Linked DNA regions of Homo sapiens: region 2 is linked to region 1. The links come from fine-mapping of genetic effects on gene expression. Tissue or cell type: cerebral cortex. Region 1 holds a variant in brackets; the other region holds the start of a gene. All regions are shown on one strand. Distances are between the middles of the regions.

Evidence for each region. PIP is the estimated chance that this variant, and not a neighbour inherited with it, causes the effect. A credible set is the group of variants that fine-mapping cannot tell apart.
Region 2: ARHGEF39 starts here. The variant in region 1 is the best candidate, but not a certain one, in a credible set for the expression of ARHGEF39 in cerebral cortex (GTEx, PIP 0.57).

The regions. Positions count from the first base shown.
Region 1 is chr9:35,635,998-35,643,233 of GRCh38, reverse strand. It overlaps a transcript of CD72 not described here. Among named protein-coding and RNA genes, the nearest start is that of SIT1, 11 kb to the left of the region's middle. The variant A/G (reference allele first, on the strand shown) is at 2,887.
Region 2 is chr9:35,662,655-35,669,042 of GRCh38, reverse strand. It overlaps ARHGEF39 (Rho guanine nucleotide exchange factor 39), which reads left to right and starts at 3,848. Exons shown (of 9, transcript NM_032818.3): 1 at 3,848-4,011; 2 at 4,193-4,287; 3 at 4,551-4,671; 4 at 4,917-5,035; 5 at 5,651-5,721; 6 at 5,969-6,097; 7 at 6,302-6,388. The coding sequence starts at 3,874. RefSeq lists a silencer at 3,680-3,829 and an enhancer at 3,980-4,059.

The sequences.
Region 1 (7,236 bases):
ATGTGAGTCGGACAGTCCAACCTCCAGTGGGGGCCCACACAGACAGGGCACGGCCTAGGAGGAATCCCGAGCTGTGGGCATTCTCAGGCCCAGTGGCCAGGCTTTTGGCATTTGAAGCCAGGTCCACGAGGAGGTTTTGAAGGAGCCCCTGGGAACTGTGGCTTGGATGTTCTGAAGTTTTTGTGTGCTGGAGACGTGGTTGTGGGTTGTCTTACAGCAGAGGCGAGTAGCTGTAACTCAGAGATGCCTTGTCACTTGGCTGCCTCTTCTCTATTATTGTACACCTTGAAGGCAAGGTTAATTAAGTCCTGTTGTGGGGTTTGAGGGCCGGAATCCAATTGTTGGAGTTTTTTCCTAATATCAGGAGCAGATTGGGTGATAAAATGCATATTAAGAATAAGGCGGCAACCCAAAAGCAACTAAGAGGGTTCCTTGGCATAACAGGCTTCTGCCGAATATGGATTCCCAGGTACAGCGAAATAGCCAGGCCATTATATACACTAATTAAGGAAACTCAGAAAGCCAATACCCATTTAGTAAGATGGACACCTGAAGCAGAAGCGGCTTTCCAGGCCCTAAAGAAGGCCCTAACCCAAGCCCCAGTGTTAAGCTTGCCAATGGGGCAAGACTTTTCTTTATATGTCACAGAAGAAACAGGAATAGCTCTAGGAGTCCTTACACAGGTCCGAGGGATGAGCTTGCAACACGTGGCATACCTGAGTAAGGAAATTGATGGAGTGGTAAAGGGTTGGCCCCATTGTTTACGGATAGTGGCAGCAGTAGCAGTCTTAGTATCTGAAGCAGTTAAAATAATACAGGTGATCTTACTGTGTGGCCATCTCATGATGTAAACAGCATACTCACTGCTAAAGGAGACTTGTGGCTGTCAGACAACCATTTACTTAAATATCAAGCTGTATTACTTGAAGGGCCAGTGCTGCGACTGTGCACTTGTGCAACTCTTAACCCAGCCACATTTCTTCCAGACAATGAAGAAAAGATAGAACATAACTGTCAACAAGTAATTGCTCAAACCAGTGCCGCTAGAGGGGACCTTTTAGAGGTTCCCGTGACTGATCCCGACCTCAACTTGTATACTGATGGAAGTTCCTTTGTAGAAAAAGGGCTTTGAAAAGCAGGGTATGCAGTGGTTAGTGATAATGGAATACTTGAAAGTAATCCCCTCACTCCAGGAACTAGTGCTCAGCTGGCAGAACTAATAGCCCTCACTCGGGAACTAGAATTAGGAGAAGGGAAAAGGGTAAATATATATACAGACTCTAAGTATGCTCACCTAGTCCTCCATGCCCATGCAGCAGTATGGAGAGAAAGGGAATTCCTAACTTCCAAGGAAACACCTATCAAACATCTGGAAGCCATTAGGAGATTACTATTGGCTGTACAGAAACCTAAAGAGGTGACAGTCTTACACTGCCGGGGTCACCACAAAGGAAAGGAAAGGGAAATAGAAGGGAACCGCCAAGCAGATATTGAAGCCAAAAGAGCCACAAGGCAGGACCCTCCATTAGAAATGCTTATAGAAGGACCCCTAGTATGAGGTAATCCCCTCCAGGAAACCAAGCCCCAGTACTCAGAAGAAGAAATAGAATGAGGAACCTCAAGAAGACATAGTTTCCTCTCCTCAAGATGGCTAGCCACCGAAGAAGGAAAAATACTTATGCCTGCAGCTAACCAATGGAAATTACTTTAAACCCTTCACCAAATCTTTCACTTAGGCATTGATAGCACCCATCAGATGGCCAAATTATTATTTACTGGACCAGGTCTTTCAAAACTATCAAGCAGATAGTCAGGGCCTGTAAAGTGTGCCAAAGAAGTAATTCCCTGCACTGCAGGCCATACATTTCAATCCCTGTATCTTTAACCTCCTTGTTAAGTTTGTCTCTTCCAGAATTGAAACTGTAAAACTACAAATGGTTCTTCAAATGGAGCCCCAGATGCAGTCCATGACTAAGATCCACCACAGACCCCTGGACCAGCCTGCTAGCCCATGCTCCGATGTTAATGACATCGAAGGCACCCCCCCCGAGGAAATCTCAACTGTGCAACCCCTACTATGCCCCAATTCAGCAGGAAGCAGTTACAGCGGTCATCAGCCAACCTCCCCAACAGCACTTGGGTTTTCCTGTTGAGAGGGGGCACTGAGAGACAAGACTAGCTGGATTTCCTAGGCCGACTAAGAATCCCTAAGCGTAGCTGGGAAGGTGACTGCATCCACCTTTAAACATGGGGCTTGCCACTTAGCTCACACCCAACCAATCAGAGAGCTCACTAAAATGCTAATTAGGCAAAAACAGGAGGTAAAGAAATAGCCAATCACCTTTTGCCTGAGAGCACAGCAGGAGGGACAAGGATCGGGATATAAACCCGGGCATTCAAGCCGGCAATGGCAACCCCCTTTGGGTCCCCTCCCTTTGTATGGGAGCTCTGTTTTCACTCTATTAAATCTTGCAACTGCACTCTTCTGGTCCATGTTTGTTACGGCTCGAGCTGAGCTTTCGCTCCCCGTCCACCACTGCTGTTTGCCACTGTCGCAGACCTGCCGCTGACTCCCATCCTGCTGCTGACTCCCATCCCTCCAGATCCGGCAGGGTGTCTGCTGTGCTCCTGACCCAGTGAGACTCCCATTGCCACTCCCGATCGTGCTAAAGGCTTCCCATTGTTCTTGCACGGCTAAGTGCCTGGGTTCGTCCTAATCGAGCTGAACACTAGTCACTGGGTTCCACAGTTCTCTTCCGTGACCCACGGCTTCTAATAGAGCTATAACACTCATCGCATGGCCCAAGATTCCATTCCTTGGAATCCGTGAGGCCAAGAACCCCAAGTCAGAGAACACAAGGCTTGCCACCATCTTGGAAGCGGCTC[A/G]CCACCATCTTGGGAGCTCTGTGAGCAAAGACCCACGGTAACACTAACAGGGTCATGGGAATCACCAAATTTATAGCTAGTTGTTCAGAAGTGTGGGTGACCTGGGGACCCCCAAAGTACAGCTGGAATCTGAAGAGAAGATTTGTGAAGGATTAAGCCCTTAACTTATGGAGTCTGCACTAACTGTAGATGGTCAGTGCCAGAAATGGCTTTTAGTACACCAATTTTGGTTGAAACAGAAAAATGTCACAGAATGAAAACCATTTTAGTAAATAGCAATAATTCAGTCATTTTTGGTGGAAATTCTTTGATGTGATCTAAACCAAAATGAGATCAGCTTTGCTTCAAAAAGATTTTGCCAAATAAGAGAAACTGCTGAATATTTAACGTTTAAAATATCAATTTCTATGTATTTTTTCCTTTTTCATGGTGTTCAGGAATTAATTTTGTTAGCAGTCAAGATTGCTTAATCCTCAGAGTTACATTTCCATTTTGCAAAGTAACAACTGGTTGGTTTTTACTCTTAGTTTCCCTTTCCCCAGCCAGCATGTAAACAACCTGCCATATTGTTGCAAAAAGGCAAATAGGGTTAAAATTGGAGACAAGACTTCCATCATTTTTGCCAAGCAGAGAGGGAAGAACTCAGTAATCACATAATTCTGCTCAAACTAAGTGTATCTGAGAACTATTCAAATGTTCACAGGAGGACAGATGACCTCTTTTTTCTCCATTTCTCTTTGGATGTTACACTTTGTCATTTGTCATCAAAATTGGCCTTTTCCTTTATCTCTTTGTGGTAAAGCTTGATGGCATCTGAATTTACACTGTCTCCTTGACAGTTGTGCTGCTTCTGCTTCTTTCTGGCAGTTTCTACTTTTCCTTTCATTTTATTATCCTGCTTTTTATTTCAATTTTGTTTTTATAGTCTCTGTGTACTGTCTTGACCTTTAGATGGTCTTACCTTCAACATGGCAAGGATGTCACACTACCACGTACAAATAACAATGTGCTTTCTTAGCTCATTTCCCTAGCATGACTTTTTTTGAGATGTCAAAAGCAAGTTTTTGAGAAACCAATTGCATTTTTATTTTGCCCTAAGGGTGCTTAACCCAATGTCTCTTCTTTTATTATTATTTTATTACCCAAGGGAAAAAAAATTTACTTAGTTTATTTTTTTAAAGCCAGTACTTTGCTCATCAATTAATGTTTGTTGAATTTATTCCTACTGGATGAGTAGTTGTATTCTTTTGAAATAATGTGTCAAATCTTTGTGCCCAAAGATTAAAAAAATAAAAGTAAAATACATCTAAAAAAAAAAAAAAAGAATAAGGCGGCCTTCCGGCCCCTCTGGGTCTAGGGCGGTAAAGCGTCTAAGGGTTGCTGCCAAGCGGGCCAGGAACTGGGCTGGGTTTTCGCCTTTACCTTGGGTAGTTTCCTTTAGCTTGTCAGAATTAACAGCTTTGTGTGCTGCCTTTTTAAGCCCTTCAACTAGGCAGGAAATCATGTAATCTCGCCTAGCTATACCTGGGGAATCTGCCTGATAGTTCCTTTGGGGGTCCTCTCGGGGAACTGCTCTGATGCCTTCCTGGAGGCCTGGCTCATGAAGCCAGCGGTTGTCAGCGTGAGACTGGGCTAGAGAAAAAACTCTTTCCTGTTCATCTGGGGAGAGGGTGGAAGTCAGGATGACATTTAAGTCACTGCAGGTTAACTTGCAGGACAGAGTTAGATATCGGAATTCCTGTATATATTTAGCGGGGTCTGATGAGAAAGAGCCCAAACACTGGCTGATTTGGGAAAAGTCTGATACAGAAAAAGGCGCATGTACCCAGACTATGCCTTCAGCTCCAGCCACTTCTCTAAGAGGAAATTGTTGGGCAGGTGGGGGAGAGCTAGTCGCAGAACAAAACTGTAAGCCAGACTGGGTGTGAGGAGGGGAGGTGATAGAAGGGTTATAGGGTGGGGGAGCGGAGGCTGAAGAGGAGCTGGAGCCTGATTCAGCCTGGTGGGGAGCGACCTGAGGAGGAGCAGTCTGGGGAGGAGGGGAGAGGTCAGATGGGTCGGTAGAAAAGGAAGATTCAAAAGACCCAGCAACACTTGGGGTTGGGACTGAAGGGACAGGTGGGAGGGAAAGAAGGAGGATTTGGGACAAGTCGCATTGGGAACAGAGACTAGGGAGAGAATGAAGTGTGAAAGACGCCCGGATGTACGGCACCTCCGACCATTTGCCCATTTTTCGACAAAAATTATCTAGGTCTTGTAGGATAGACAAATTGACAGTGCCGTTCTCTGGCCACTTGGAACTATTTTCGAGTTTGTATTGGGGCCAAGTGGTATTGCAGAAGAAAATAAGGCATTTAGGTTTTAGGTCAGGTGTGAGTTGAAGGGGTTTTCAAGAACACAGGCTAAGGGAAAAGATGGGGGAATCGAGGGTGGAAGGTTGCCCATAGTGAAGGAGGTAAGTTTAAAGAGAAAGGTAGAGACACGGAGCAGGGGGTGATGAGCAGCCCTGGGCTGCAATGTGGGTGAGCAGCCAAAGCAGGCGTCCCCACAATTGACTTGCCACCAAGGGAATGTGGGTGAATGACCAAGGCAGGCATCCCCGTGGTGATCAGACACCAATGAAATGTGGGTGAATAATCAGGCAGGCATCCCCGCAGTGATTAGACACCAAGGGAAGGCTGTCTTCCTGAGTCCATGACCAGCGCCGGAGTTTTGGGTCCACAGATAAAATGTGTCTCCTTTGTCTCTACTAGAGAGGAAAAAGAACTGGAATTGGAAGGACAGGGAGATTGAAGGGTAGCAAGAGAGGGAGATTGAAGGGTAGCAAGAGAGGCTGGAGAAGAGAGTGAAAAGACCGCTTACCCAATTTGAAATTGGTGAGATGTTCCTTGGGCTGGTTGGTCTGAGGACCCGAGGTTGTAGGTGGATCTCCTCACAGAGTTAGGGCGAGGACAGGGGACCCGCCTCCCGAAGGAGTCCTCCTGTCCCGGGTCTTCAGCACCAAATGCCATGCACGTCTGTGTGAAGAGACCACCAAACAGGCTTTGTGTGAGCAATAAGGCTGTTTATTTCACCTGGGTGCAGGCGGGCTGAGTCCGAATAGAGAGTCAGCAAAGGGTGATGGGATTATCATTAGTTTTTATAGTTTTGGGATAGGCGATAGAGTTAGGAGCAATTTTTTGCGGGCAGGGGGTAGATCTTCTTACAAAGTACGTTCTCAAGCGTGGGGAGAATATTACAAAGTACCTTCTTAAGGGTGGGGAGGGTGTATCGTACAAAGTACATTCACAAGGGTGGGGGAATATCACAAAGTACTTATCGCAAGGGTGGGGAGGGTGTATTGTCACAAAGTCAATTGATCAGTTAGGGTGGGGCAGAAACAAATCACAATGGTGGAATGTTATCAGTTAAGGCAGGAACTGGCTATTTTAACTTCTTTTGTGGATCTTCAGTTGCTTCAGGCCATCTGGATGTATCCGTGCAGGTCACAGGGGATATAATGGCTTTTCTTGGGCTCAGAGGCCTGACAGGGACCTCAGTGACAGGACTATGTGGGACTTCAGGATCCTGCTCCTCTAGTTCCAAGACTCAGATACTCTCTTCATTTCTGACCTCGTGATCCACCCGCCTAGGCCTCCCAAAGTACTGGGATTACAGGCGTGAGGCACTGCGCCCGGCCAGAAAGTTCTTAAGAAATTACTTATAGGTGAAGAGGGTCTTTGGAAGCGATGTGGCCAGGGTCTCTCCATCTTTGGCCCTGCTCTGCAGTCTCTCAAAGATGGGTTTAAACTTCCAGCTTGGTTTTGTTACAAGGAGGGAACAGATTTAAGTGATTCTCATTTCTTCATTTCTACTTCTTTTATTTATATTCCATTTCTTCCCACTTTGCTAACTTGCTTCCCTATCCTTTACTGTATATTCTCTACTTAGTTGTTCTGGTTCCTTATAACAGCTTCATATTTCCTCTTCGGTCTTGTGACCTCAGTTAAATGTTTAATTATAGAAATAATGTGCACGTGGTTAAAAAAAAAGTCAAATAGAACCAAAGGCTACACAACAGTGGTTCTCAACCAGGGGTGACTTTGCCCCCACCCCCTGCAGGAAACATTTAGGGCATGTCTGGAAACATTTTTGGTTTTCACAACTGGGGAGGGGGTGGTAGTGGAAAGAGGTCAAGGATGCTGTTAAACAACCTACAAAACTCAGGTCAGCTACTCACAATAAGGAATTTCTCACCCAAAATTTATAGTGCTGAGGGTGAGAAATCCTAGCATAGGGGAAAAAATAAAAGTAAAAACCTCTCTCCCCCAATTCCAATTCCTACTCCCAGTCATAGTTCCCAGAGGTAAC
Region 2 (6,388 bases), 26 kb before region 1:
CTCCAACTTCACATGGCCTTCTCTTGCCCCTGTGTCTCCACTGGGTGTCTCTCACTGAGACACTTGTCATTGGATTTAGGGCCTACCAACATAATCCAGAATGATCTCATCTCAAGATCCTTAACTAATTATGTCTGCAAAGACCCTTTTTCCCAACAAGGTCACATATACAGGTCTTGGGGATTAGGACATGGACATGTCTTTATATGGGGCCACCATTTAGTCCACCATCAGTGCAGGGGAACTGACGTGGACGCACAGGATGAGAAGGGATGAGTTCGTATTGAAGACTCTCATGCTTTTGCCCTTATCCTGCTACTTATCTTTGCAAGGCCGTGTCATCCACTCCCATGGCTCCTATAAATTGATGACACCCAAGTATTCCCAGGCTGGACTCTCTCCCCATGCCAGACCCATAACCATCTGCCTAATAGACAAGACCCAAGACATCTCCACTTGGATGTCCCACAAGTATTTCAAGTTTAACAGGCCCCAGGTTGAATTTGTCTTCCCCGCAAATCTCCTTTTCATCCTCCTTCAGTGAATAGCACCACCCTCCACCTAGAAGCCAGAAACCTGGTACCATCTCTACTTTCATCTTTTCCTTCACCCTAGCATTCAATAACCATGCCCTATGGATTCTACCTTCTAAATTTTTCATCTACATTTTTCATCTTGGCTCATACTTTCGTCACCTCTTACCTGGATGACTGCAACTGCCTCCTGATGGGTCTTGCTGAGTCCAGCCAACCAGAGTGATGTTTCTAAAATGGCACATCTGATGATCTCACTCCCTGTTTAAGGCCTTTCAATGGTTTCCCATTGCCCTTAGGATAAGGTTCACAGTACCTGACGTGGCCTTCAGAGGGCCGCCATTGCCCTGGTTTCCATGGTGGGCTTGTGACCTAGGGAGGTCCAATCAGTGAAGCTCTCTGTCTGAAGTATTTGATGGCTAAGGGAACCAACTCTGCGGACAACACATAAAGAAGCACACAGCCATTGTAACTGTGGGCAGCCATCTTGTACCCACAATGGAAGCCAGCCTTAAGATGAAGGTAAAACCATGGAAGGCACAGTGGAGTGGTGGAAAGAGGTCCTTGGTAACATGATTGAGCTGCTGGATTAGGCCAACACTAGGGCCCACCTGCTTCTGGACTTTTCAGTTGCATGAGCCAATAAATTATCTTAATGTTTAGCCACTTTGAATTTATTATTACTTATATCACAATTTTACTGATATAAATTCCTTCTAAGTTTGGCCTCTGTCTACCTCTCCAGTCTCCTTTGTCATCACTCTCTCCCTTGCAGTCTATGCTCTCATCTTACAGAACTTCTAGCAGTTCCTTAAATTCATCGTATGCTTGCATATGTGTGTGTCCAAGCCTTTGTCCATGCTGTTTGACTCTTTTTTCCACTTCCCTTGCTGCCAGCGCCCAGCTCTGCCTAGCCAGGTTTTATTCATCCTTCAGGTCATCAGTTCACATATCACTTCTTTGAGAAGAAGCCTTCCCTGACTCCTACACTAGGATCAGTCCCTTCACTGCATGCTTGTGTAGAAGACTACATGTCTCTTGTAATGTTTCCTCATTTTATGGTGACTCCTTACTGTATCTGCCATGCTGGAGTGTAAGCTCCCTGTGGGCAGGGGTCATATGTCTCTTGCCCACCATTTCATCTTCATGCCTAGCACAGGACCTGGCACATGATTGGCATTTAATTTTTTTTTTTTTTTGAGACAGAGTTCCGCTCTTATTGCCCAGGCTGGAGTGCGATGGCATGATCTCGGCTCACTGCAACCTCTGCCTCCTGGGTTCAAGCGATTCTCCTGCCTCAGCCTCCCAAGTAGCTGGGATTACAGGCACGTGCCACCATGCCCGGCTAATTTTGTATTTTTAGTAGAGACGGGGTTTCACCACATTGGTCAGGCTGGTCTCTGACAACACATAAAGAAGCACACAGCCATTGTAACTGTAACTCCCGACCTCAGGTGATCCGCCTGCCTCAGCCTCCCAAAGTGCTGGGATTACAGGCGTGAGCCACCATGCCCAGCCTAATTTTGTTGAATGACTGATGATTGTTGTTCAAAGCATCCCTAGTGCTTCTCCAGCATCCATCGGATTGAAAGCAAAATTTGAGGATAATTAAAGAATAAAGGGGTTATTGACTATCCTCTGAACCTCCTCCTGTTGGCCCCTCCTATCTTTGGCTGTGGGAGCGGAGTTTAGCAGCTGTTCCAGGTAGAGTATGGTGTGCCTGACTTGCTCTGTGGGAGACTCGGTCCCCAGGGAATTAGTTGTCACCAACTGTTTTCAGTGTGTCTTCTCGGCTTTGCCCTCTTCCTCTTCTAGAGTTGAATGATTCCCCAACCGATGCTCACAGGAGGCTCTATTCCCCACCCCTCTTCCACCCACCCAAAGCACTAACACACACTGGCAGCATTCACAAACACACCCATCACCAACTGCACCCCAGGTGTTGTGGTCTACTCTCATCACCTGGGCTCACAGTGACACCAATTACCATGGGATTATCTGTCCTCTTCCATGTTTGAGCTCTTAGTGTGTGGACTGTCCCACATTCACTTGAGACAGTGTAACCAGTCCTTTACCTATCTGGTATCACCACCAGTTTCCTTGGGACATAAGCCCAAGGTACAGTCTGATCCAAACTCTCCCCTTCCTTCATCCAAGCCCTTCAAGTTATTCCTCCCTGGTCTAAGCCCAGCATTATTCCTTTCTTAGAATTCTTAGAATGTCAGAGCTGGTGGGGAGGTGGTAGAGACCTCAGAACCCTGACAATCCTCTGGTTCTTGGCTTGCGGCCCAGATTCCTAGGAGTCCAAAACAGTAGGGAGGGAGCCTAAAGTTTCTGACATTTTGTTTTTTTTAATAACTTTTTTTTTCTAACTACAAAGTAATGCATGCTTAATGTAGAAAACTTGGGAAAGGCAGAAGTATAAGAGAATTTTTAAAATCACCCTGTTTGTCCCATTCATCCCTTTAGCTTCAGTGATCCAGTGCCTGGCACAGATACAGATTAGGTACTTAATACACATTTGTTAAACACATTATCTTCAATTCCATTACCCGGAGATAAAAACCACAGTTAACTTTTTATTTTTATTTTTTATTTATTTATTTTTTTTTTGGAGAGATGGAGTCTCGAACTCCTGGGCTCAGGTGATCCTCCTGCCTCTGCCTCCCAAAGTGCTGGAATTACAGGTGTGAGCTCCCGTGCCTGGCAACAGAGTTAACTTTTGATTGTTTTGCCTTCCAACATTTTATATATGTTTTATACAAAGGGGATTATATTATACACCTTTGTAGCCTGCTTTTTTTCCTCTCAGCAATATACTTACTATGTGCGTTTTCCCATATCGATAGCTTCTTTACAACACCATTTTTAATACTTTCATATCATTCCTTCAAATGGCTATACCTTTTCCTAGCCAATTCTGGGAACAACTGACCCCCTGGCATTTGGCATGGGCCCAGGACAGAATGTGTACTGTAATGACCGCCCCCCGTCCCAATTCTCCAGATAGGACATTAAGTTCCTGCCAGCATCTGCAGCCCGTCTCCTGACTCAAAGTTCAGGCTGCTGCTCCAACATAGTGCCACTCAGAGGAGGGCTCCACACCTGCCCCCAACCTTGCCCTGCCCTGCCCTGCCTTGGCCGGCGCCGCGCACCTAAAGCGCCGCTCTGGCGGTGGGGCTGGACAGAAGAGACCCTGCGCGGTCCGGCCGCTCGCCGCGCATGCTCCTTCCTGCGCGCTGCCCTCCCCGGCCCCGCCTCCGCGGCTCCCGCCCGCGAGCGGTTGGGATTTGAATCTGCCGCGGACTGCAGCCGGAAGTGTCGATCCCTCAGCCAGGGCATGGAGCTCTCCTGCCCCGGTTCGCGGTGCCCGGTGCAAGAGCAGCGTGCCCGCTGGGAGCGGAAACGCGCCTGCACCGCCCGGGAGCTGCTAGAGACCGAGCGGCGCTACCAAGAACAGCTGGGGCTGGTGGCCACGGTGGGGGACCTGGCACACGCTCCCATTATAGGACAGGGACCCCAGGGTGTGGGAGGGTCTCTGCGAGGTCGGTAACCCGGAGCATGTAGGGAGCCTGGGCAGACTTCTGCGGTTTCTGGGGGCGCTTGGCGTTAGCCTTCTCTTCCTCTAGGCTAAGAACCAATGTTCTCTCCTTCCGCAGTACTTTTTGGGGATCCTGAAAGCCAAGGGGACCCTGCGACCACCTGAGCGCCAGGCCCTGTTTGGCTCCTGGGAGCTCATCTACGGCGCCAGCCAGTGAGTGGAAGGGGCACAGGGAGAGGAAAGGAGGGAGAGTCCTGGCCTGTGGCCGTGCACAGAGCTTGGAGTCAGACTTAGGTTCTATTTGGAGTCCGCCAGTTAGCTCACCTGTGGCCTTGGCCCAGGGCCTTAGCATGCCCTTGTTCTCCATCTGTACAATGGGGTAATAGCACTACTATTAGTGCTATTCTCATGAAAACTAAATGAGGTGGTGCTTGAGTGGTTCTAGAGCTGCCCTTTTGCTGTCCTTGCCCACACAGGGAGCTGCTTCCCTACCTGGAAGGAGGATGCTGGGGCCAAGGGCTGGAGGGCTTCTGCCGCCACTTGGAGCTCTATAACCAATTTGCTGCCAACTCAGAGAGGTCCCAGACCACCCTGCAGGTAACCTGGAGATGACCTCAAATCTTGCCCCTTACCTTTCCCCTTCATCTGGAGACCCAAACTTCATACATTTCCTGCATTTATAGAGCCCTCTGGGTGCTCAGCTCTGTGGTAAGTTCCTTGTAGAGAAACGAGAGTTTCTCTCAGGAGCACAGCTTACTGAAGGCTGGGAATGTGGATACAGATGAATGCAATATAAGGAGTGGCTTCTCTCCCTGCTTCCAATCCTTTCTCCCTCACTCCAGGAGCAGCTAAAGAAAAATAAAGGTTTCCGGAGGTTTGTACGGCTTCAGGAAGGCCGCCCTGAGTTTGGGGGCCTTCAGCTCCAGGACCTGCTCCCTCTGCCTCTGCAACGGCTCCAGCAGTGAGTGAACTCTTGATTCCAGCCGCCTCTCTCTTTTAGTTTGTATGACTGCTGCCCTCAGCTTTGTGGGATGCCTTGGGGTCGATCCCAAACTCTTGCCTCGACCCTGAGCCAAATTGCTTCTAAAAACCTTTTGCAAGAGTAAATGTGAACCCATTGGAGTACCCAGGGTCTGCAGCCTGAGGCCCTCAGCTGGAACTGTGGAACTTTAAATTGAAGTGAGGGGGCCTGTACTAGGGCCTGAGGCACGGTTTCTGGAAAAGTTTCAGATGCGGGGCTGGCCTGGGTTAGAATTTCTGTCTCTGGGTTAAGCCTGAGTTAAGGGCTATAGTCAGGCTGTCTGTAGCATCCTCCTTGGGTTGATAAACTTTCATCTTCCAATCTGGCCTCCTGAAGTATGGCTAGTCTGCCAGTGACTCTTCAGTGTGGGATGGAAGAGGGCTGTGTGGTGTGAGCCTGGTTCTGAGTCCTACATGAAAGAAGGGGATACAGTAGCCAGAAGCAGATCTTTCCTGGCCTTCAATTGAAGTATGGGTAGAGGGTGATCTGCACATCAGGCAGGGGGAATTCTGCCTGGCTCTGCTTCCCCTCAGACTTCCCACTGTTGAATTCCAGGTATGAGAATCTCGTCGTAGCTTTGGCTGAAAACACAGGTCCCAACAGCCCTGACCATCAACAGCTCACACGTAGGTTCTTGCTCCTCGGCAACGCAGGCTGGAGGCTTCCTCTCCTGTATTCCTTTCTGATTCTGACCTCCAACAATGTCTGGTATGACCCTATCTTCCACTGACATGTATACAGTGTCCCTACTGCTCTGCCTTTTCTTCAAGAAGTCAGACCCTGACCCTGGTCCCTTCCAGAATAACCTCTTTCACAACCATGGCACCCAAAGTCAAAGTTGTATGGGGAGTAAGGTGGGAGATGTTATTCCAGGGGCTGCCCGACTGATAAGTGAGACTGCCCAGAGAGTCCATACTATTGGTCAGAAACAGAAGAATGACCAGCACCTTCGGCGTGTCCAGGCTCTGCTCAGTGGACGCCAGGCAAAGGGGCTGACCTCAGGTAGCTTGCCTACTTCCCCTTCAATCCTCAACTGCCCCATCTTTTATTTTTATCTAACTCCAAATGCCGACCAGCTGCTCTTTTCTTACTCACCCTTCTTCCTGTACTGACCCAGCACATAACCCCTATTTTCTCAGCCTCCCTTTCCTCTTATTCCCATGTATCTTGAAGCTGCACCAGAATAACAGCGCTCCCATCCCCCAGGGCGCTGGTTCCTACGCCAGGGCTGGCTGTTAGTGGTGCCTCCCCATGGGGAGCCTCGGCCCCGCATGTTCTTCCTCTTCACTGATG